7 linked regions of the Homo sapiens genome follow. The protein of the gene in region 3 purifies or fractionates together with the protein of the main gene of each other region. This does not show direct contact. Each region holds a gene or a part of one and is shown on either strand. Other genes may lie near its edges.

What was found.
Region 1: the proteins of VDR (region 3) and SNX18 purify together in Homo sapiens (affinity purification with mass spectrometry; one large-scale study listed by BioGRID and IntAct). This does not show direct contact.
Region 2: the proteins of VDR (region 3) and GLMP purify together in Homo sapiens (affinity purification with mass spectrometry; one large-scale study listed by BioGRID and IntAct). This does not show direct contact.
Region 4: the proteins of VDR (region 3) and CDK11B purify together in Homo sapiens (affinity purification with western blotting; one study listed by BioGRID). This does not show direct contact.
Region 5: the proteins of VDR (region 3) and MED13 purify together in Homo sapiens (affinity purification with mass spectrometry, with the first as the bait; 2 studies listed by BioGRID). This does not show direct contact.
Region 6: the proteins of VDR (region 3) and LEF1 purify together in Homo sapiens (co-immunoprecipitation; one study listed by IntAct). This does not show direct contact.
Region 7: the proteins of VDR (region 3) and PACSIN2 purify together in Homo sapiens (affinity purification with mass spectrometry; one large-scale study listed by BioGRID and IntAct). This does not show direct contact.

The regions. Positions count from the first base shown.
Region 1 is NC_000005.10:54,544,423-54,547,086, reverse strand, and holds the end of SNX18 (sorting nexin-18), read right to left. Parts: 3' UTR 501-2,664; downstream 1-500.
Region 2 is NC_000001.11:156,292,880-156,296,883, forward strand, and holds the start of GLMP (glycosylated lysosomal membrane protein isoform 1 precursor), read right to left. Parts: upstream 2,801-4,004; 5' UTR 2,767-2,800; coding exon 2,647-2,766; exon of another isoform or gene 2,418-2,646; intron 2,138-2,417; coding exon 1,880-2,137; exon of another isoform or gene 1,797-1,879; intron 1,687-1,796; coding exon 1,486-1,686; intron 1,358-1,485; coding exon 1,139-1,357; intron 832-1,138; exon of another isoform or gene 739-831; intron 698-738; coding exon 441-697; intron 331-440; coding exon 165-330; coding exon of another isoform or gene 133-164; 3' UTR 1-132. UniProt on the Homo sapiens protein: Required to protect lysosomal transporter MFSD1 from lysosomal proteolysis and for MFSD1 lysosomal localization.
Region 3 is NC_000012.12:47,849,495-47,852,994, reverse strand, and holds part of VDR (vitamin D3 receptor), read left to right. Parts: intron 1-3,500.
Region 4 is NC_000001.11:1,649,005-1,652,504, forward strand, and holds part of CDK11B (cyclin-dependent kinase 11B), read right to left. Parts: coding exon 3,435-3,500; intron 634-3,434; coding exon 495-633; intron 1-494. UniProt on the Homo sapiens protein: Plays multiple roles in cell cycle progression, cytokinesis and apoptosis. Involved in pre-mRNA splicing in a kinase activity-dependent manner. Isoform 7 may act as a negative regulator of normal cell cycle progression.
Region 5 is NC_000017.11:61,981,779-61,985,278, forward strand, and holds part of MED13 (mediator of RNA polymerase II transcription subunit 13), read right to left. Parts: intron 3,313-3,500; coding exon 3,222-3,312; intron 3,088-3,221; coding exon 2,873-3,087; intron 2,590-2,872; coding exon 2,393-2,589; intron 1,337-2,392; coding exon 420-1,336; intron 1-419. UniProt on the Homo sapiens protein: Component of the Mediator complex, a coactivator involved in the regulated transcription of nearly all RNA polymerase II-dependent genes.
Region 6 is NC_000004.12:108,092,433-108,095,932, forward strand, and holds part of LEF1 (lymphoid enhancer-binding factor 1), read right to left. Parts: intron 1-3,500. UniProt on the Homo sapiens protein: Transcription factor that binds DNA in a sequence-specific manner. Participates in the Wnt signaling pathway. Activates transcription of target genes in the presence of CTNNB1 and EP300.
Region 7 is NC_000022.11:42,889,650-42,893,149, forward strand, and holds part of PACSIN2 (protein kinase C and casein kinase substrate in neurons protein 2), read right to left. Parts: intron 1,534-3,500; coding exon 1,298-1,533; intron 1-1,297.

The sequences.
Region 1 (2,664 bases), on a different chromosome or scaffold from region 3:
ATATGTAAAACAAATCTGTAAAGATAAGCAGATACAAGACTACAAAGCCCCACAAAGAGGGCAAGCTTTGCCAAATGGGACTTTGGCCCCTTGCAAGATATGCCAGGTCCCGTAGCTATTATATTTTGGCTTATGTGTGTTGGAGTTCGCCTATTTATGGCAACCAACAGACAGTATGTCAAGTACTTTACTTAAGCACCTGCTTCTGTCTCAGGTATTGGACTCATGGGAGCTATTATTTCAAAACCTCTCACTCACAACTTACTGCTATGTGCTTAATTCCTGATGTCACTAATGGAAGCAGATACTCCATGGGACTATCTGAATGATGATGGTTTTAAATTAATCAAATTAGCTACAGTGTTTGATGAATAATTTCTATGGTAACTGCAGATGAAGCTCAAGACAGAACATGCTCTTCTATTTTTCTGTGTAATTCTTCACATTAAATAAATGCCTCCTTGATGAGTGGAGAAAAAATAATTATATTCCATTGAAGCTAAGAAATAAAGCAACCTGTTTATTTTTTAAAAAGATAAACATGGCTGATCTGCACTAATCATAACATTTTGAAGGAAATAAAACAATATTCAACATTTCTAGACTACAAATAAATAATACCCTGTTTTACTTATTCTGTTAACCAAAGATGAAGGTGGAAATGAGAAAATTGAATGCTTATGGACTTAAAGGTATCAGACATGGCATTTGATTTTTGGAAAATGAAGACATAAATGGAAAATGGCTATGGCAATGAACTTAAGAATGACATTTAAAAGTTTTTACACAAACTTTACATACTTGACAGACTAAAACATTTTTCAAGTCCTTAATTATGAGAACAGCAGCAAAATTTAAGACAATTAAAAATCGGCATTTAAGAATCTGCTGTATTATTGTGAATAAATGCAAAACAACTGTATCAGTGAAGCCTGGGAAAATCTCAATTACTATAATATTCGTGCACTGGCTTTACATTTCACTTTTGAATGCGTTCCCTCATCCTGGGTGCAAACTGGGTACCTTCAGATACAACAGCTTGGACGGGGAACAAGATTACGACACATGGCTGTAGAACCAGTCTCGCTGCGTTACAGTTACAGCATATAAACAACTCTGTCTAATAAAAACAGTAAAACCAGGCTCAAGTGCACACCCTGTGTTACAAACACATCACATATCAGGATTATAAATCATAGAAATAAAGACAAATAATGGCATGAAGGGCATGATAGTTTATTTTTAAAAATTGTACCACACTGATCATGATGACCAGCATACACATGATAATGGCTTTTCTCTTGGGTTTAACATTGCAGTAGTTTTGCATACTGCAATGTTTCAATAGGACCAAGAACGTTAGAGAATAAAGATCTTAGATGAAAATGAACACTAATAATTCTAGTGTCCTCCCCCATAGAATTAATGTAAATCCCGTATGAATCAGTGGCATTATAATGTTATGTGGTTATGAAGAATGAAATTTCTCTTAGAAGTAGGCAGCATGAATTTATACTTACATAAGTATAACTTATACTTCCTTGTACTTTCATCTTTAGTTTTTATAATTTAAGCTATGTCCACCCTGGCTAAAGTACAATCATACAATATACCTCAGATAATTTCCATGCTACCATTGCACAAGTTTAGTGATTTTACTATTAAAAAAAAAAAAATCCAACCACCATCAAAATAAAGAGGCAAATAAAAGTAATTTTTAAATCATTTGAAAAGCATGGTGCTTATTTGTCCAATACAGACTCAAACTTAAATGCTATAGTTATAATTTCCAGACTTCCGCAAAATTAACATTTATATATACATATGGGTTTTGTTTATAGAACTGTATTTTGCAATCAACAAGTTTTAGAGACAACATATTTGGTTACAGTTCCACATATCTGTAGTAAAGACAAAGCCACATAATGTTCATGATGTTAAATCTGGCTCTAAGTAACCTAAGGTACAAAATTTTGACCAAATATCAAAATGATAATCTGATCTTAAAAATACAACCCATATGAAACTACTTTTTAGAGAGAAAATGTGCTGTTCAGTAATTATTTCAATAACCTTTTCTGAGTATCTGCAAACTGATCCTTTTCTTTAATCTTTGTGACTCACCAATATTTCAAAGTGACCTCTTCACTTCCATGTTACCATTTCAGTACCCAGGGATTTCTGAGGCAGCATAAGTTTGACTTCATAAAAACAGTAGATACTCTAACAGTGACAATTTTTAAATCTGTAAACTCAATAATCACATTAGTTAGCTCAGCAACTATAAAAACATTGAGATTGGGGCACTGTAAGCCAGAATCTCTTTGTGCTTTTTAAATTAAGCTGCTTTTGAATCTTTTTGGTATTTATCAGCCATCTGTATTTCCCTTATAATAATAAAAGAATACATTTAAAATAAATTTTAAGGTTAAATGTCCTGGGGGGGGGGGGCTCATCAATACCTTTTTTTTTTTTAAAACATAGTATAAATCAATTATCTTTTTCCTTCAGTATTTGGAATAGCAAAAATTATTTCTGGTCCCTCCTTAGATCAATCCACACCACTTTTCATGACATATTAACACTGAAATTTACAGACATCCCTGAAAAGTTTTTAAGTAAACAAGTGAATCACAGTGGAGTCTCAATCAGTTAACAGTGTAG
Region 2 (4,004 bases), on a different chromosome or scaffold from region 3:
CCCCACCTGGGGGTCTCCAGGAAGTCGAGGCTGGCCTCTGAGGTTCCACAGAAAAGCAAGATGGGGGAGTGAAGGGGCCGGCTGGAACTTGATGCTCCAACCTCCAGAGTTTCGAGGCACAGCAAGACAGGTTCAGTAATGTCCTTCCCTCCAGAGAGCGGGCCTTAATTTATGGACTGGTACTCTGAGTACTTCTTGTGGTGCAGCAGCAGAACCAAGCCGCCCCCTAGCAGCATGAGCCCTGGGGCACCCAGGGCCACTGCCATGATGCCCAGGACTAGTGGGGACAAGCCGTCCACTGGAGGGAAGCCCACACCCAGGAGCATCGACCTAGAGCAAGCAGAGAGAGAGAGGTAAGCGGGCTTAGGAGGAAAGGCTGGGAGGCTCAGCCTTTGTCCACTTCAACTCCCCAAGTCCCCGGCCCAAACCCTGGCTCTCACCAGCTGAGGTAGTGTTGGTCCCAATAGCCAGGGCCTGTGGAAGCCCCGAACGTCAGATTGAAGGCACAGAAGTTATTCTGGGACCCAAAGAAGGCTCGGACAATGGGTGACTGGGGAAGAGAGTATGCTAAGGCAGGATGAAGAGGGGAAGCTTGGCAGGGCAGGGCTGATTCTCGGCCCCCCGGCTTCTGGGAGTAAGCCACTGGTCGCCACTGTGCAAAGCCTGATGGGAGGGAGCCCCACAGTAGCTGGTCCAACTGGGAAGAAAGGCAAACAAGGGAGGGTAAAGAGGACCAACCTGTGCCCGACCCTCTTTTCCTTGCCACTCCCAGCCTTATTCTGTGACTAGCAGCAGGAGTCCTGAGTCCTAGGCAGGGCCTCAATCCCTCCTCTGTAAAAATGGGGAGTTCGACTGGGTGAGGACTGAGTTGTTTTCCAAACCTCCAAGTCTGGACTCAGCCCTCCTCTTGGCCCCTAGCCCCCTTGCAGATCTCCATCTGCCAGAGTGTAAGTCATATTGCACTTTCTGTCTGTCTCCACTGAGGGCAGAGACTGGGTCAGATTCATTAGCACAGTGCCTAGCTCTTAAACGACCCAAAGAAAGTGTTGCTAAATGGCAAATGGTTGAATGAGTTTTAGGTCCCAATGGTGTCCCACCTACATTCCTCACCCATCTGCCTCTCTCCAGGAAGCCTGACCTGGAAGACGGCCGGTGCATATTCATCGTCGATGGAGTGCTGCTCCTGCATTGAGGGGCAGTCAGGGCCCTGGCCCAATGTGGCTACCTCCAGCCCAAACAGGGAACGGTTTCCCCGGGGAGAGGCTCCAATCAGGGCCACCTCTAGCTGACAGGTGTCTGCTGTGTGCAGGAGGCGAGGGGGTTGGGCTGGTCGGCTGGACCTGGAAAAGGCCTGGACCTAGGAAGGAAGAAGCATGGGAGGTGTGGGAAATAGCTGGATGCCTGTGCTTAAGGGCCACCTCCATCATTAAATCCCACCCTCACAAATCAGCCTTTTTGAGCTCTTTCCGATTTCTCACGCCTTACCCTGAAGGCCAGGCTGCCATTGGCAAAAGTCCTGGTAGGGTCGTTCATGGGGTGGCCTTGAAATGTGGCACTCAGGGTGGCAGGATCCAATGAATCAGTGATGTTGTTCCAAGAGAAATCGGCCAAGGAGTATGGAGGATATGGTCTTCCCAAAGGCTTTGCTGCCGTATCGGACACGTTGGTGCTGTCAAACTCAAGCAGCTGGAGGGTGGGGGTAGGGTGGAACTGGGCTTGCCTCAGTTTTTCTCCCGAGACCACACCTCCCACTCACCCCCTACCAAGGCTTTCATATCTGAGTCTATTTCACCCACCCCCAGTCTTTAGTTCCACCCTCTAATTGGGATGAACTCTCTCCTCTGCACTCTTCTCCTTGGTTCTCTCCCAACCTCCTCACCCTGGTAAAAACAAGGGCAGAAGAAAACTGAATGCTGTCCTTAGGGAGCACCATCAGGCCCCCATCGGGCTCAGGGGATAGCAGGAGGCTCCAGTTGACGCTCAGGGTGCTGTGGGGGGTGTTGGTGGCCACCATTACCACTGCCAGAGGCCCCAGGCTGCTCCACACATAGTGCAGTGTGGAATTGGTGCCCACTGCCCGTATATGAAGCAGGTTCTGCAGGGGGCCCAGCCAGTTAGGGATGACCTCCAGAGACACCTGGAACATGGAGTAGTGGAGGGTTGAGGGAACAGGACCAAGGAGAGACACAGGCAAAAGAGAAGCTTGAGGGGAGGGGGGCTTGGAAAGTGCTGGACAAAGGATGGGATTTTGGGGACTAGACAAGAGGAATGTGTGCGGGAGCTGAGGGAACCCTGGGGTAAGGGGCAGTGGGGACAGGATGAAAAGGGGTAGGGTAGAGGGTACAGCCAGGACTCCCCTGACCCTGGTGGGCGGGTCAGGGCACAGGGCTGCGAAGAAGAAAACATTCAACACTTGCCTGGACCTGGGTCACCCAGGGCTGAGTCGGGGTCCAGACATCACCCTCACATTTGCCCTACTCCACAATCCCGTCCCATGACCCATGACCATCTCCCACACCCTCCAGGTTGAAGAACCCTCCTCTTGGCAGCCACCCTCCACCCCTAGCCCCTGGATGCCCGGTTCCAGCCACCCTGCAAGGGTAGCGTTTCCTGAAACTTCTATCGCTGTAGCCCCAGGGCCCTCACCTGGCGGGTCTTCTCCCCCAGCAGGCCAAATGGGGCTGCAAACAGAAGTAGAGTCCAAAGGAGCAGGGGGCTGGGGGCACAGTGCCCCCAACCCCAGGTGCACTCCACAGAGCCGCGCATACGGCCGCAATTCAGCCGACGGAAGAGGTGCCAGAGGGTCACATGACTCGCGTTCAGCTGATCCCTTTCAAGGGCGGAGCCGCCAAACTATTTGCTTTTTAAAAAAATTTCCTTTCGTCAGCACCATTTAATGTATTAAAGAACAGCTTTGTATTCTATCTTAAAACAGGAAACGTCAGTCTCTTACAAGTAATACAATTTAATATGGTCACAAGATTTTAAGTGAAAAAAAAAACATTCATGCTACAAGTTTTCAGTTTTCCTTGGACAATGCCAAAAACACAGTATTCAAACGGCATGTTTTAAGAGGAACGTGAAATCTCATTTTGACACAAAGACAGGTTAAAGAAAATAAACCCAACAGGGAACTACTCCAGTACATTGCCTTAAGTTCCCAACCCTGTCCCATTGTGGAACTCATACACCTTCTTTCTACTCCAGCACATGAAACTCTGTGGTTCTTCTTCCCTGTGGAACAATGTGGTTCTTCTTCCCTGCCTAACATTTCAACAAAAATTGTAAATATTTAGAGATGTGTCACTAAATGACAACAACATACTTCCAAAAAAGCCAACTTATTTGTTAAATGTTGAAAGAAAAGGCCGGGCACGGTGGCTCACACCTGTAATCCCAGCACTTTGGGAGGCTGAGGCAGGTGGATCACAAGGTCAGGAGTTCAAGACCAGCCTGGCCAAGATGGTGAAAGCCCGTCTCTACTAAAAATACAAAAAATTCACTGGGCACGGTGGCAGGGCCCTGTAATCCCGGTGGCAGGCGCCTGTAACCCCAGCTACTCGGGAGGCTGAGGCAGGAGAATCACTTGAATCCGGGTAGTAGAGGTTGCAGTGAGCCAAGATTGTGCCACTGCACTCCAGCCTGGGCGACAAGAGCGAGACTCCGTCTCAAAAAAAAAAAAAAAAAAAAAAAAAAAAAAATATATATATATATATATATATATATATAGAGAGAGAGAGAGAGAGAGAGAGAGAGAGAGAGAAAGAAGGGGCTAGGCCGGGCACAGTGGCTTACGCCTGTAATCCCAACACTCTGAGAGGCCTTGGTGAGTGGATCACTTAAGGTCAGGAGTTAGAGACCAGCCTGACCAACATGGTGAAACCCCGTCTCTACTAAAAATACAAAAATTAGCCAGGTATGGTGGCAGGCGCCTGTAATCCTAGCTATTTGGGAGGCTGAGGCAGGAGAATCGCTTGAACCTAAGAGGCAGAGGTTGCAGTGAG
Region 3 (3,500 bases):
TTATTGTCTTTCAAGTAGCAGCAATAGCTGTATTTACGGCAGAAGGGGCAAAATGCTTCCTAGATACTAATGCTCAGATTCAGTGCTGGAATATGGGGAGCTGGAAAATGAGTTAACATTGCCGGCTCTGGATGGAAACAGATTATGAGGTGCCATATATTGGTGTATGGCCCTCTTAGCTGTGTAGAAAAGCCATGAGTTATTGCCGAAATTAATGCCTTGCCAGTGAGATGATGGTCATTCACAGAGCTAAACCCAGAACTTTCCAGTTTGTTTCTGCCCTGAGAAAACTGGCTCTGTGTTATTTTATGCCTCTCACCAACCCAAATAACAGAAATTTTTCGATGCTCTTCCCCTGGAATTAATGTGAAAATGGTGAAGAAGAGAAAACTGGCAGACAGTGCTGAGACACTCCTACTGCATTGCACATTTTGGTTGTAGTGATAGGAGCGAGGGCCCCTCTGGCAGGCAGGCAAGCAGGAGCAAGCGACAGATCTTGTGTGAGCCCGGCATTGCTCTGAGCCCAGGGTTTACCCTCAGAGGCTTTCTTTGGAACTGACAACACATTCCGTAGAGCACAAGTTCCAACTCCCTCCTCCACGCTTCACGTTACTGTTTGCAAACTCCACATATTCCAAAGTCTTGTTTTGTGTAAACAGCTAGGGAAAAAACACAGAAGCACTCGGCTTCCATCCTCATGTCAGGCAGCAGTCCTTGTCTACACAGGCTTCATCCTTCCCTGCTCTAGTGGGGAGTAGGACAGAGGGCCCCCACGGCCCTTTCCAGATACAGTGATTCCAGGTTCAGTGATTCCAATGGTGGCTGAGATTGCATACACGGGAAAGCTGCCCTAAAAAGAAAGTTACTCATTAAATCGGATTACTCCAATGCTGCCCCCTTCACTAAGGAACCCCAGCCTCCAATTTCTCCCATGCTCAAGGCCCCTATCCATTGCCCTCCCACATGTACCCTGACACAAATAGCACTACTCTCAGTTTCTCTTCCCGAGGTTAAGTTGAAGTCTGCCCTCTTCCTTTCATCATGTTCTCCTCTGTCCCCTAGTCTGTCCTTGCAACTCATGGCTAAAGTGAGGTACATATGGCAGGTACAGGAGCTGCCCAGCCATTGATGCAAAATGGGTTAAACTGATCCTGAACATGCTAGGGTTGGCTTCTCTGTCTTCAGTATGACTTGAGAAGTCCCAGAGCAGAAGGTATGCCAATGAAAATGGAGCAGGCCTTGCTAAGAGAGCTTGCAGGGACACTGGTATGGACGCTCTCTGTGACTGGACAGAGGTGATGCTGAGCCTGGACTGGAGCCCAAACCTAGGCTCCAACTGGGCCCAGGGTGGGCCAGCCCAGTAGCTCTCTGGTTCTGCTGCTTTCCACACTTAGGGGTTCTATTGTTCCAAGACATAGAAGAACAGTGGCTGCATCCCTGGTGGCTTTGATCTTGCTGCCTGCAGGCAGGGGCGGAGGGTGTGGGGAAGGCAGGATGAGACTTCTGTGTGGGTGTGTGGGGGCACAGGATGAGTCTCCAGTGGGGGCATGAGACCAACGTGGGGCAGGGCTGGATGGGCTGTTCTTGGTGTGAACTGTGCTACAGTGTGGCCTTGGCCTGCTCTCTCCTCCCATCTCTCCTCCCTTAGCCTCTCAGTCTCACCCCACAAATCTCCCTCCCTGCTGGCACTGCAAATGAAATGCATGGAGGAGGTGGCATCAGCAGCAGCATCTAAATGGCCAAGAGCAGCCTTAGATCTGAGGACTTGGGACCCCCAGGCTTCACTGACAAGTAAAGTACACAAGAGACCAGGCCACATAAGCTGCAGCCCTGCCCTCTTCTGCTAAATGCCTTCACCTTCATTGCCATTTCCATACCTAGGGAAGAGCCCTGGGGGTTATCATGCTTCCTTCGTGCTGTGCCCTTTCTCCACATTCATTTCTTCATCCATCCAACAAATAGCTTTCTTACATAAACTGTGAGGGACAAAAGTTGTTGAGAAGACAGTCCCTGGCATCCAGGGATTTGGTGTCTGATGAAAGAGATAGACATGTAAACAATTGCTGCAAGGAGATAAGAGCCCTGCTACAAGCCTGCTGGAGGTACCGTGGGAATGCGGGAGGGGAGGGGAGGGGCCGGGCTCTGCCTGTGGGGGTGGGAAAGACGAAACAGCAACACAATTCCAGTCACATCTCGGGTGCCCAGAAGCGGCTGCAGGCGTGAAGACAGAGGAGGGTGTAAATGTCACACAGGTGAGGGAGGGGGAACGGAGCTGTGCTGGTGCCTATCATCGTGGAACAAGCTCTCTTATGGCTTCCCCTGTAACTCCACCTCTACTCCCACCACGCCACCATCCCTGGTCCTGGCTGTGAGCTGTATTTAGAAAGGCCCTGTATTTCCAGGCTGTGGGCAGTCATTTGGGGTCGTTTTGGGTTTGTGTTCCTAGCAGCAGGATGTCTGGATCACAAAAGCAGTGATCCCACTAAAACCTCTCTGGCCTGCATCCATGGAAGATGTGTTCACTGCTGGCCATCTGTTTGAGTGGGGCACTGAACAAAAGGCTATGTATAAAGTTATTCCTCCCAGAATTACCTATGATAGCAAAAATTGGAAGCAATCAAAATGTTCAAAAATAGATAAATGGAAGACTGGCTCAATAACTTAGAGTATACTGTTATGATGTAACATCATGCAACCCTCTAAGAACTGGGCTAAATAATTTTGAGTGATATAGGAAGTAGGATAAAGAATTAGTATAAGCTCCAGTATGTTAAATGTATACTCCCTCTCTCTATGTATATTTGTGGGTATATATATATTTGCATAGAAAAAAGACAGGAAGGTGCCAGGCACGGTGGCTCACACCTATAATCCCAGAACTTTGGGAGGCCAAGGTGGGCAGGACTCACTTGAGGTCAGGATTCAAGAGCAGCCTGGCCAACATGGTGAAACCCCATATCTACTAAAAATAGAAAAATTAGCCAGGTGTGGTGGCACATGCCTGTAGTCCCAGCTTCTCCGCAGGCTGAGACAGGAGAATTGCCTGAACCCGGGAGGCAGAGGTTTCAGTGAGCCGAGATTGCACCACTGCACTCCAGCCTGGGTGACAGAGCAAGACTGTCTCAAAAAAAAAATTAAAATAAATAAATAAGAAAAAAAGATAGGAAGAAAATACGCCAAAATGTGAAGTGTGGTTATGAGCAAATTTAATTTGTTTTTACATTTTTATGTATTTTCCAAAGATTTGATAATGAGTATGTTTTACTTGTATAATGAGTCAAAACAAAAATGGGGATGGTGTTCATTTTTGTGTTTTAAATGTGGATTGAGCATCTAGAGAAAAGTGACAAGGATGGTGAGATGTTAGACATTGTGTCATTAGACTATCTGAAGGAGGACACGGCAGTTTTCCTTTTTAAAAAACTCCATTAGTTATGGTTCAAAGGAAGTCCCATGGCTAGTGGAGAAGTCTGGTTCTGGGTTTATTGAGCACAAAACTG
Region 4 (3,500 bases), on a different chromosome or scaffold from region 3:
AGTGAAAACTCACTCCCTCAGGACAGTTCTCTTGGTCAGCCTCGTCCAGCGTTCACTGTGCTGTTTCCATGTCTACCACTTCTGCACCAAATGTGACTTCTTCTTTTTTTTTTGAGACGGAGTCTCGCTCTGTCGCCCAGGCTGGAGTGCAGTGGCGGGATCTCAGCTCAATGCAAGCTCCACCTTCCGGGTTCACGCCATTCTCCTGCCTCAGCCTCCCAAGTAGCTGGGACTACAGGTGCCCGCCACCATGCCCAGCTAATTTTTTGTATTTTTTTAGTAGAGACGGGGTTTCACCATGTCAGCCAGGATGGTCTCCATCTCCTCACCTCATGATCCGCCCACCTCGGCCTCCCAAAGTGCTGGGATTACAGGCGTGAGCCACCACACCTGGCTCAGATGTGACTTCTATTGCCAAATTCTTCTTCATTTCTAGGATGGGACACACTACCACAGCCCTTTTATAAAGTCCTCAACTGACCCAGCCGACTCACCTTTCTCTCCTGGAATGCTCCCTTGCCATCTCCCTTCTCTTCTGTCTTTCCCATTCCCGGCGAGCTTTATCCTGTTCTTCTCGATGCCGTTTCCGACGTTCGTGCTCTCTTTCTTTTTCTTTCACTCTAGCATGCTTCCCTAATGAGAAATAAAGTGTCATGCAAAGAAACCTCACTTCAAAAATTTCACATGAAGCCGGGCACGGAGGCTTATGCCTGTAATCCTAGCACTTTGGGAGGCTGAGGCGGGCGGATCACCTGAGGTCAGGAGTTCAAGGCCATCCTGGCCAACATGGTGAAACCCCGTCTCTACTAAAAATACAAAAATTAGCTGGGCGTGGTGGCAGGCACCTGTAATCCCAGCTACTAAGCGAGGCTGAGGCAGAAGAATTGCTTGAACCCGGGAGGCGGAGGTTGCAGTGAGCCGAGATCACGCCACTGCACTACAGCCTGGGCAAAAAAAAAAAAAAAACCCACGTGAAACTGAAATTAAGACCGGGCGCGGTGGCTCACGCCTGTAATTCCAGCACTCTGGGAGGCCGAGGTGGGCGGATCACAAGGTCAGATCGGGACCATCCTGGCTAACACGGTGAAACCCCATCTCTACTAAAAATACAAAAAATTAGCTGGGTGTGGTGGCGGGCACCTGTAGTCCCAGCTACTCGGGAGGCTGAGGCGGGAGAATAGCGTGAACCCAGGAGATGGAATTTGCAGTGAGCTGAGATTGCGCCACTGTACTCCAGCCTGGGTGACAAGCAAGACTCCGTCCCAAAAAAAAAAAAAAAAGAAATTAAATCAAGAACAGTAAATATTTAAATAAATATTTAAATAATGATGTTAACGTTAAGTAATCCTAATTTTTCTTTTTTTTCTTTTTTTTTTTTGGAGATGGAGTCTTGCTCTGTCGCCCAGGCTGGAGTGCAGTGGCGCAATCTCGGCTCACTGCAAGCTCCGCCTCCCGTGTTCACACCATTCTCCTGCCTCAGCCTCCCGAGTAGCTGGTACTACAGGCGCCTGCCACCACGCCCGGCTAATTTTTTGTCTTTTTAGTAGAGACGGGGTTCCACCATGTTAGCCAGGATGGTCTTGATGTTCTGACCTCGTGATCTGCCGGCCTCGGCCTCCCAAAGTGTGGGGATTACAGTTGTGAGCCACCGCGCCCGGCCTTTTTTTTTTTTTTTTTTTTTTTTAAAGAGACAGGGTCTCGCTATATTGGCCAGGCTGGTCTTGAACTCCCGGACTCAATTGATCCTCCAAAGTGCTGGGATTACAGGCCTGGGCCACTGCACCCAGCCGAATAATCATGATTTTATGTTAAATAAAAAACTTTGAAAATAAAAAACTATCTGCAGTAAGCGTCTAATTATGAAGAAAGAAGAAAAAAGAAAAACAATTCTGCTATCACAGAAGAGCAGAATTGTAATATTCGTCTTTTAAAACTTTTCCATACTGAATAAACTATAATTATCAGTTTTATAATACAAAAATCACTCTTCACAAAGACTACAGAACAAAGCTTTGCTATCAGTGGGCTTCTCCACTGTGCAATGAAGCCACATTAATTAATCAAGTGTATTTATAATCATGACATTTCAATCGGGCTCCAGGTCCAATTTTCCTAACACCCGTAAGAACCTCCTGATGTTGGTACGAGATCAAACTGCTCAAGCCAAACCCATTCTTTGGACTTGAGCAAATACCCATTTTGGGGTGTGTTTTTCTCCTATACTTGTTGAATTCAGGTCATTTTAAATGTAAACAAACTGCTTCCAAACAATATAATGGGGGAGAGAAAACCCCAGAGGAAAAATGGACTAGCCATTCTGAATGGTCTGTGACACACGCACGCTTTCAGCTAGAGTTTGCTCTCTCTGGTTTTCGGTCTGTGATACACGCATGCTTTCAGCTGGAGTTTGCTCTCTGTAGCCCCTCTGAACGGTCTGTGACACACGCATGCTTTCAGCTAGAGTACTCTATAGCCCCTCTGAATGGTCTGTGACACATGCACGCTTTCAGCTAGAGTACTCTCTCTATAGCCCTTCTGAATGGTCTGTGACACACGCATGCTTTCAGCTGGAGTTTGCTCTCTCTGGTTTTCGGTCTGGGACACATGCATGCTTTTAGCTAGAGTTTGCTCTGTATAGCCCTTCTGAACGGTCTGTGACACACGCATGCTTTCAGCTGGAGTTTGCTCTCTATAGCCCCTCTGAATGGTCTGTGACACACGCATGCTTTCAGATAGAGTATTCTCTCTATAGCCCTTCTGAATGGTCTGTAACACACGCACGCTTTCAGCTAGAGTTTGCTCTCTCTGGTTTTTGGTCTGTGACACACGCATGCTTTTAGCTAGAGTTTGCTCTGTATAGCCCTTCTGAATGGTCTGTGACACATGCATGCTTTCAGCTAGAGTTTGCTCTCTCTGGTTTTTAGTCTGTGACACACACATGCTTTTAGCTAGAGTTTGCTCTGTATAGCCCTTCTGAATGGTCTGTGACACACGCGTGCTTTCAGCTAGAGTTTGCTCTCTCTGGTTTTTGGTCTGTGACACACGCATGCTTTTAGTTAGTTTGCTCTCATAGCCCTTCTGAACGGTCTGTGACACATGCATGCTTTCAGCTATTCTCTCTATAGCCATTCTGAATGGTCTGTGACACACGCACGCTTTCAGCTAGAGTTTGCTCTTTCTGGTTTTCGGTCTGTGACACACGCATGCTTTCAGCTAGAGTTTGCTCTCTCTGGTTTTCGGTCTGTGACGCACGCATGCTTTTAGCTAGAGTATTCTCTCTATAGCCATTCTGAACGGTCTGTGACACACGTATGCTTTCAGCTAGAGTTTGCTTTCTCTGGTTTTTCAGTGGTGCTCTGGGGAAGGCAGAAGAGTAGGAACAGGAAAGAAACCACACTTGAACATGATGTCAAAGAAAGTAAATGCTTCTGTACCCCCTTCTGCTGAATGGCTACGATGCCTACGTTTCTCTTTTCTCTTTTCATCTTTTCTGTGATGAG
Region 5 (3,500 bases), on a different chromosome or scaffold from region 3:
ATTTCCTATTTTCTCCACTAAATTATAGATTCAAAAAGGGCAAAGAATATGTGTGCTTTGTTCAACAGTGAATCTAGGCTAATACCTGGCACATACAAGGTGCCCAGTAAATACTTAATGAGTGAAAGAATGTTGAATAAAGCAGACCACTAGCAATGTTATGCTAATAAATATATGGAATGTGCCTTTCATATTCCTACATAAGTATATAATTACAGATTTATAATAACCATACTTTTATTGGTGAAATTAAACTAAACTGCTAAGAAATTCTCCCTTTAAAAACATCATCCATAAAGAGTTTTAAGTCCAACTTTAAATGTATTTGCCACATGGGAAACTGCCTTTATTACTTTTTCCTAAGAATGTAACTAAAGGGAAATAAGCAAACAAAAAAGTATTTTATTGGCATACTTTACCGTTTCTTTTGGACCAGGGGTGTAAGCATGAACTTTTCACAAGTGCTTCATCAACTTTTCCTCCTGACATGTTATCCATGAACTGACGCCCATGTTCTAATGCAAGGTAGCAGTCATTGCAACAGTCACGCTCTTCAACACGTACCCAATTGCTAATTACACCACTTTTAGGAAAAGGATCTTGGTCTGCTGCTCCAAAGGGTGAAAATAAATTAGTGCACTGATCTTGTAGCAATAATATCAAATCATCAGATAATTTTTCAGATTCCTTTAGTCCTCCATTAACATGTTCAGCAGAGGTAGCCCTGAGAGCTTCAAAACGTTTTTCTGCTTCTTTGCCACAGTCTGTATTGCGTCCTATGATATCTAGTTCATCTTCAAGAAATAATCCTGAATTGTTTCCAAATTTTCTGTTCATGACAGCACTGAAGCCACAGGTACACCTATATTGTGCTTCCTGCGTTGGATCTGGAATGTAAACTCCAACATCGGCACCCTTGATGTTCATGTTGCAAACACAGATGCAACAACTATCAAAGTTACAGTCTTTAAACAAATTCATAACTGATTCTGAAAGGATGAGGTTTACATAAAGACTGTGTGCTTCAGGGATGGAAGGGACAGTTGCAGGTTCAACAGAATTAAGGGGTCTGCATGTAGATGGGGTAGAAGCTGGTGAATACAAGTCTGAATTTTCATATTTGACTGAACCTTGAGCACTAGCAGGTCCACCAGCTCCACGAGGAGTCCGAGGAGTCCTTGGAGTCCTTGGAGTTGGAAACCGAGGGGTGGATGGAGAAGGAAGAATTCCTGCTCCGCTGTTACTAGGAGGTGCACTGCTAGGAGGCATCCCAAAAGAAGTATGAGTTTGAGGTGTATAAGCAGTGCCATATTCTTGATCCATATTACTTCCATCACTATCATCACCAGGGTAAAAGAAGATCAAATATATATATAAAGGAACATATTAGTAATGTGAAATACAACTAAAAACGTCCCAAATGTTTTTCAATTACATAGAAAATTATGAAAGGACAAGTATTGCAAGAATTACAAGCACAGTCAATTCTTATTTCTGGTTAACATATCTACTCTAAGTGATTGTTGTTGACTAAGGATCAATTAACAAGTTCAAAAATCATTAATAAGCACTCTATACACTAATGCATACCTAGACATCCATATTTACTATCTATAAATTTTGTTTACTAGAAATACTTATATTTCCTTGATTCTAAGATGCTACTGACTATAAAAAAAGAAAAATGATTTTAGAGATGCTCATGTGTAAAAAGGGAAAAATGGTAATTTTAAAATGCTACCACTTATAAGACATCTCAGATTCAGATTTCTTTTAGCCTTGAGTTGAAACTGACCAAGTCAGAGATGTTAAAATGTGAAAAGTGTGGAAAAGATGGCAAATGTAAAAATGGGAGCAATTTAAAATTGCAGCCCAAAAGAAAAGGTGCTTCGGAATACAAATCAAGCATAATAGTCTTAAGTTTCCTAATAGTTTATCCATACCCAATTAACCTTTTTTTTTTTTTTTTTGAGACAAAGTCTCACTCTTGCCCAGGCTGGAGTGCACTGGTGCGATCTCGGCTCCCTGCAATGCCTGACTCCCAGGTTCAAGCCATTCTTGTGCCTCAGCCTCCCAAGTAGCTGGGACTACAAGCATGCGCCACCACGCTTGGCTAATTTTTGTATTTTTAGTAGAGACGAGGTTTCGTATGTTGGCCAGGCTGATCTCAAACTCCTGACCTCAAGGGATACGCCTGCCTTGGCCTCCCAAAGTATGGGAATTACAGGCGTGATTCACTGCTCCCAGCCAATCACTATAATTGATTAACCAGAAATAATTTTTAGAATTTTCAAAAACCAATTTTATTTTTCCAGCATACCAGGTAAATCTATGAAAAAAAAATTAAAGCTGTATAAGCAGTCACATACTATTGTAACAACATAAATCATACCCCTCTTTGATGAATGGCATTGAAGGCCCTGAAGAAAGCAATTCCAATTTTCCAACAGTCCAACTCTGACGGTAAATACACTCTTCTGGCAATTTGATAGGGGGCAGATATTGGCTTGGTAGAGTTTTTAGAGGTGCAAACATGGAACATCCCACTAGAATTTGACAATTTTCAGGCTTATAGACATAAGAAAAATCCTACAATATAAAGATGGTAGGTTTTCAGTATCTTATCTTCTAGGAGGAAAAAATAAATAAACAAACAGGCTCTGGACCTTTTTTCCTTTCTTTAAACAGAATAAAATCTAAATACAATTCTATTATTTTCTTAAATGCATTCTTAATAGTGACAACAATAATTCAGTCCTCAACTTAGCTACAAAACCGCAACCACTATAAAATAATTTTTGACTATAGCAACAAATTAATTCTATAAGAAAATATAGGAAGTGAATTATTTTTCTAGAAAAAACATACTTACTTTAATTTCAGAAGGTTTGGGGCTACAGAATCCCTCATCAACCTCAATTTTGAACTGCGCTCCTATACTAGAACTATTTCCTTCTAGAACAGTTCCTCCAGGTGTTGTATCCATACTACCATATTCTTTATTATTCATATTCATTGGGGAAAATCCCATAATATGTTGTTCCAATGATGGTGGTGTAGGATACATTTTATGAAGATCTGCAGTGCCTATATTTAATAAAAACATACATTTTAACATGACTAAAAATAGGCGAATCTGTGTTTAAACCAAAAGGAGTGGGGAGCTTTGTTGAGATTAAAAGTTCGCAAATTTATCTCGAGCACAGATGAGGGAAGCTTACTTATGCAAGATAACGGGTCCAGATTTCCTGTCTTTGATTCCTTGCAGCTGGCTTTATCATCTGATCCATTTGCTGATTTTTTAGATCCAGGCTATTTAAAAAAAGCACATATTTATCTAAAATTTTACATCCAATGTGATCTCAAAATAGTAATCATTCAGATATAACTTAACAGTAAAGCCCATTCATTAAAAGTAGTATTTTGAATCTGTGATACAGCCAAATACATACTAGTGTTGAAAGATATAAAATATTTCTTAATCACTGACTCCAGATTAA
Region 6 (3,500 bases), on a different chromosome or scaffold from region 3:
CTTACACTGCGGATATGTGGCACATCATCATCACAGTCAAGATTCCTCAGCCCAAAAATCTGCAGGCTTCCTCTGATTTCACAAGTTACTGCCCCTTGACACTATGTGCACACACAAAGTGAGAACCCTGGCACTGCTACTTTGGTTAAGTTTTAAGACAGCCAGTAAAACCATTCTTAATTCCATTCATTTAATCTCCTAATAAAATGTGGTATATATTTTCTTGTGGGGAGTAGGTAAGCGGAAGAATAATCAACCAACTATCTAAGTGTTTGTAGACAAATTAAGTGGCTACATCACATGCAGAGTTATACATGCCCGTGTGCATATGTGTGTATTTATTAAGCACCTAAAATGTTTCAAGCACTATTCTAGCACCAATGACCAACACACAGATAAGGTCTCTAATTCTCGCAGCTTACTTTCTGGGGCTCTGGAAGTGGCGTCAGGCAGCAGGGGGTGGGTATTGGAAACAATGAATATGTAAAAAAAAAAAAAAAAAAAAAAAAAAAAAAAAGACAAGCAAAATCTGAAAAGGCAGCATCAAGTACTATGAAGAAAATGAACCTGGTGATAGGAGAAAGTGTGTATCTAAGTATATGCCTTTTTATTATGTTTAAGCTCTAAGAAACCTAAAGTATATTTAGTAGCTTATTTTAGTTCCTTATTTTAATTTTACAGACTGGAAGCCGAGAAACAGAGGTCACCAGGGAATGGGTAGGTCAAGCCAGGACTACTGTATAAAATAGTACAGTCCTGCTCACTACACAACTCCAGTAACGCAGGGACACTGAATACAATGGGAATGAACCCCCTGGGCTGCCCAATACAGTGGAATCAGCAGTAGAAAAGTTCGATCCTTTTGGCTCTTACTCTGTGCTGGCTACTGTACACATAGTAAGTACCTCACTTAATAGAACCCAAGTCTCCTGATTCCTACTCGGGTGCTTTTCCTACTACACATCTCGCTGTAAGGGAGGGAAGGAGGGAGAGAGGGTAAAAATCACCTGCTTTTTGATTCACAGATACAATCAGGTAAGTCTTAGCTTCCAGTTGAGAATCACCAGGTAGTCCCAATATGTGCTCTGTTTCATTATCCCAGGGTCACAGGATGCACAGTTACTCCAGCTTTACGAGATACCTGGCAGCCCTGTCACCCCAAATTCTCCACTTCTGGTCAGAGGTTCAGTGACTTGTTTAAGCTCACAAGGCAGTAAGAGTTAGGCCAAAACCCTTGGTTTCTGATTCCAACTGCACATTCTTTAATCTCAGGCAGGTGATTGGTGGGTGAGCAAAGGAAAAGACAAAAAGAGTAGATACTTAAAAAAGAAAAAAAAGAAAGAAAGAAAAGGGAGAAAATATCAAGGATGGCTGTTTAGGGAGAAGCTTGAAACCCTTTCTTAAATTTGCAAATCACCATCAGGCCAACCTACCCACATAATACATAGTAATTACAGCAATTAACACTTACCAACTGCTTACTGTGTGCTAAGCACTTTATCCTCACAACAGCTTTGAGGCAGGTACTATTATTATCCCCCTTTTACAGATGAGGAAACAGGCATGGAGAAGAAAATATTCTTGAAGGGTATGTGCTCTAGCAAGCAGCCAAGCCAGGATTCAAATGCAGAAGTCTGGCTCTAGAGGCCAAGCTCATTACCTGTACATCATGTGGCCTTCCTGAAAGCCAAGTTCATAAAATCTTGGACACTGAGGTGACCATTTGGGCCACACCTGAGAGCATGTGACATCTATGAAATGGCTGTGTGGTCTCTGTCCCAGGCACAGGAATCACTTGAGACAAAGAAGCACCTCAGCAGAAGTGGGTAAAGCTACGGAGACTCAACTGCAGCCTTTCTCTCCAGGACTGGAAAACATGCCAAGGAAGCTTGGTTGGCTGCCACCCAGGCTGGTCCCTGCAGGTAAGGACCTCTTTGGCATCACAGCCAATAAAACCCATACCTCCTGTGGACACGAAGTGGGTGCCACTTAGGGATCCTGAGAGCCACCCCCAAAGCAGCATTCCCAGAAATGACCCACTCACCACTGGCAGGAATTGAAGGTGTCATGAAAGCTGTTAGCCTCAGAGGATGTGGTTCTGGGAAGAACTAAAAAGGTGGTTCAACTCCCTACTGGCTAAGGCCTGGGGCCTCCTGGATAGAGGAGTAACTGGGGGAGAAACCTGCTGTCCTGGTAGCTAGTCCTCATTTTCCACATCTCCAGGTTCTAACTAAACTAAACCCAAAGTGCGGGATCTGGCTGTGCATAAAGGTCTGGAGTTTCAACTGGCTGTGCATTTAATCAATAATCTTCTGGTAATAACTGAATCCAGGGGAATTTTAACACTTCATCAACTTATTGAGATGAGGAATTTCATCTGGCCTTGATTGTTATGGTGGCATTTTTGCTTTTCATTAAACACTTCAGAAGTCTGGTACTCGTGACATAAAGCCATGTAACTTCATGCTGCGCCTTTCCCTCCTTTTCTGAGAATCTGAGCTTCTCAAGCCTTCCCAGAAAGAGAGGCAGATTTACTCCAAAAGGATACATTGATTCTTGCATCTAGACCTCAGAAACAAGGTACTGGAAATATTTCCTAAGATCCACCAAAGCCAAACACCTGCTTCAGGTCTGATGTGGCTTTCAAATGTAAGACCCCCTACTGGTGGTGATGCAGCTGCATTTTTCAGATAAGAACGAGGCCCCAGGATCTTAAGATTCAAACGGTCCATGAGCCCAACTCTGGAGGAAAAGGGATGGTCTAGAGACCTGCACCATCATCAGACAACTGAAATGTTTTCTTAAGAGGGGAAGGAACATATCACAGGGAAAGGAATTAACATGGGTTGCACAGTTAGTAAGTACCAGTCATTACAGTAGCGCTTTTATATACTCTGGCACTCGTCCATGTAAGTGGGTATTATTACCCCCATATTTATAGATGAGAAGGCTGAGTCTTTTTGAACACAGAGCTAAGTAATAATTAGTGGAGAGAGGATCTGTGCCGGCATTTGTTTGATACCAAAGTCCCTGCTCTTCCTGCCCCACACTGTTTGGTGCTCAGCTCCTCTCTCCATCTCTATTCCAAACTACCCCCCAACCAAGTGAATGTGGCCTGCTGTGGCCTCAACTGTAATGAAGCATCTAGAGAGGAACAGTGGACCACTTGGAGAAAACTGATATTACCAGAGGCAATCAGACTACAACAGAATGCTGGAAGGGCTCCCTTTTAAAACGCATGGAAAACCCACTATTCTCCAAGTTCTCTGTAAGGTGGTGAATTCCAAACATTACGTCATTTAATCCTAAAGCCATACCTAAGTTAGGTGTTAAGATTTCTGTTTTATCGAGAAGGAAACAAGGCTCTGGGAATAATTCATTCTGGGAGCCAAAAGGAGACCCATTGTTTTCAGTAACTGGAGCCTGTAAATAGAGGGACTGGGGTTAAGGTTAGAGGCTGAGGAAAGATCAGGGTAAAGGAAAAATGACATCTAATTATG
Region 7 (3,500 bases), on a different chromosome or scaffold from region 3:
AGAACATCTGGGTGTTGGGGGTGGCACATCTACCGTCTACTCCATTCCAGCTAGGAATGGGGGGCGAGGCTGCAGGCAGGGGCGGGGCACACAAGCTGAGGGCTGGGGTGGACAGATGACAGCCTCCAACTAGCCAAGGCTCGACAAAACTCAATGGCTTTGGTTGCTACTTTTAGAAAAACAGGTATCAATGTTTGAAATTTTGGGATAAAAACCTATGCAAGAGAAAGAAAAATGTAAACTAGTTCTTTCTATCGTCAAAGGGACTTGAAAAAAAAATAAAGTGAAAGCAAGTTTATTGAGAAAGTAAAGGAATAAAGAAAGGCTACTGCACACGCAGAGCAGCCAAAGGGACTTTTTTTTTTTTTTTTGAGACAGAGTCTCCCTCTGTCACCAGGCTGGAGTGCAGTGGCGTGATCTCAGCTCACTGCAACTTCCACCTCCTGGGTTCAAGTGATTCTCCTCCCTCAGCCTCCTGAGTAGCTGGAACTACAGGTGCCCGCCACCACGCCCTGCTAATTTTTGTACTTTTAGTAGAGATGGGGTTTCATCATGTTGGCCAGGATGGTCTCAATCTCCTGACCTCGTGATCCGCCTGCCTCAGCCTCCCAAAGTGCTGGGATTACAGGCGTGAGCCACCGCGCCCGGCAAGGACTTTTAAGTCTCCAGCAGACACTTCCCCAGGGTTGGGAGAAGTACTGTTAGTGGTTAAGAGCTTGGGCTTTGAGCTCTACCACCAATGTATGGTTCTGATCCTCAGTTACCAAATCTGTAAAATGTGTTGGTAGGATCAAATTTAAAGAATGCCCTGTAATTCCAGCACTTTGGGAGGCCAAGGTGGGTGGATCACCTGAGGTCAAGAGTTCGAGACCAGCCTGGCCAACATGGTGAAACCCCGTCTCTACTAAAAATACAAAAATTAGCAGGGTGTGGTGGCATGTGCCGGTAGTCCCAGCTACTCGGAGGGCTGAGGCAGAATTGCTTGAACCCAGGAGGCACAGGTTGCAGTGAGCTGAGATTGCACCACTGCACTCCAGCCTGGGAGAGAGAGTGAGACTTTGTCTCAAAAAATAAAAATAAAAAATTTAAAGAATGCACATAGAGCATTCAGCATCTTCAACCTGGGTAAATGTCAACTACCATGGGCTTCTAGCCTGAGGAGTGGCTTCATCTCTACCAGGTCTGGCCTCCTGTGCCTACAGCCAGTGGCAGGAAGTCCTAGGTGCAGGAGGTGGTGCTGCTAGTGGGGTGCCAGGCAGAGCAAGGCCGGGCAGGGAAGCCTGCAGGACAGATGTACCTCTTTCAGCTTCTTGGCCCAGGGCTTCTGTGCCTTCCGAAAGCCGTCCTCAGCTTCCTTGGTCTCCTTGAAGCCGCCCATCATCTGCTTGTGAAAGGCTTCCTTCTGCCAGTTCTTGATCTTCTCGAAGTCATCGTTCATCAGTGAGGCCTTCACCTCGAGGTGCAGCTCGCTCACCCTCTCTGCCTCGGACATGAAGGCCATCCAGGCCTTCTCCACGGTCCCGTACTGGGGCCCTGTGCAGGGGAGAGAAGCTGCGGGTCACTCAGCGCCGGCCATGGTGGGGTCTGCTCTGCTCACACCTCGGCTGTTCAATGTGGCCATTTAGACCACAGAGGGTTTCCTTTCAGGGTTTCAGATATTTTTCTCTCAGGGACTCTGTGCCTTTTTCAGTTCCCAAAGCTGAATTTGCTCTGCCCCTCGTGTTAGGAAAATTGGGGGATTACATGCCTTTCCTTTATTTTTATTTTTGGGATGGAGTTTCGCTCTTATTGTCCCGGCTGGAGTGCAGAGACGTGATCTTGGCTCACTGCAAACTCTGTCTCCCAGGTTCAAGAGATTCTCCTGCCTCAGCCTCCCGAGTAGCTGGGATTACAGGTGCCCGCCACCACGCCTGGCTAAATTTTTGTATTTTTAGTAGAGACGGGGTTTCACCATGTTGGCCAGGCTGGCTGATCTCGAACTCCTGACCTCAGGTGATCCATTCGCCTCGGCCTCCCAAAGTGCAGGGATTACAGGCGTGAGCCACCGCGCCCGGCCATGCCTTTCCTTTATTTAAAGCCACTGAACTCTATAAAAACTCAAATTTCCACATCTTAGAAGTCTTAATTTACTTAAAGGTGGCCAGAGAAGGGGGGACCTTCTGAAGTGAGCAGATGCTTCTCCCAGGTGTTGGGCACCCACCCACACCATGCCAACGCTTCTCCTGGCATGGCTCCTATCAGCCCTGCTTGGCCCCTGGCTAGCCCTGCACTGCCTTCCTCTGCAGGACTGTGTTCATTCACTCCCAGAAAGAGCCTGGCTCTGAGCACAAGCTTGAGAACACTGTGGAATGAGGACTGTCCCCTCAGCAGAATGGAAGCCCATCCTGCAGGAGGAAGGAGAGGAGGAAGCAGGAGCCTGCTCTGGACCAGTATGGCAGGAGGGGCTGAGTCGCCTCTCCCTACTCACTGTTCTCAGTCCCCGAGGCTCAGGAAGGAAGCCCTAATCCAGGCTGGCATTTCTATTCAGGGGGTAGGGTGGGGTGGCGTGAGGCTGGAGGGAGGGAGAGCCACAACGGAGCCGGGGCAGAAATCGAGAAGATCCATGGCTGGTCTTCAAGGTGGTCACAGGGACAGTGACCAAGTGCGCTGAGTCATGACAGAGGTGGGCTGAGGGGAGGGCAGGCTGTGAGAACCCAGAGGGGGACACGTGACTCTGGGGCTTGGAGACAACAGAGAACAGCCCCGGAAGTTGGACCTCTCTGTGCCTTCGTGTCTACAAAATGAGCACATTCCTGTCCTGTCCACAACGTTACAGCCAGACCCACAAGGTGAGGGTGGTAAGGGTGCTCTGTAAACCTCAAGCTCTGACTGACAGCTTGATCCTGGGAGAGGGGCTGCAGCAGGTGGAAACGAAATGACGACACTGCCACCGACCAAGGGAGCTGACCTATCCTAGGCCCCTCCTCTGCCACGTGCCTGCTCCACAGCCTGGGCACATACCCTGCCCTAAGGACTGTGCTAAGCCCACACAAACAACCCATGTCAGCATCACGGGAAAGGACAGGCAGCTGGACTAGACCTGGCTTGCTTGGGACCTGGCTCCCCTGATTGGCTGAGGACAGCTGGGGCTGAGGACAGCTGGTCAGCACAGGAAAGCCTGCCCCAAAACACACCTTGAGAAACCCACACTGCTCTGCTTCTGTGCCGGAAAGGCTGTAATCAGTCAAGTTCCCCTTCCCTGCTGGGAAGTGTGTTCTAAGCATGGCCCCTGTCCACACAACAGTGGCACTAATAAAGCTACAGAATCTTCTGAGCTTTTCGGTGGGGACAGAAGGGGGTGAAACCTCTGCCATACAACACCTGTAATTATTCCCTTAAAATGTAAACTCAGAAAGACTGCCAGGTGTTGCCAGCTAGTCTTATCTGACCTGCTACATGGCCAAGTTTAAAAATAAACAGCTCTCAGTGTTAGAAACTAAGGTGCCAAGCGGCAAGGCCTT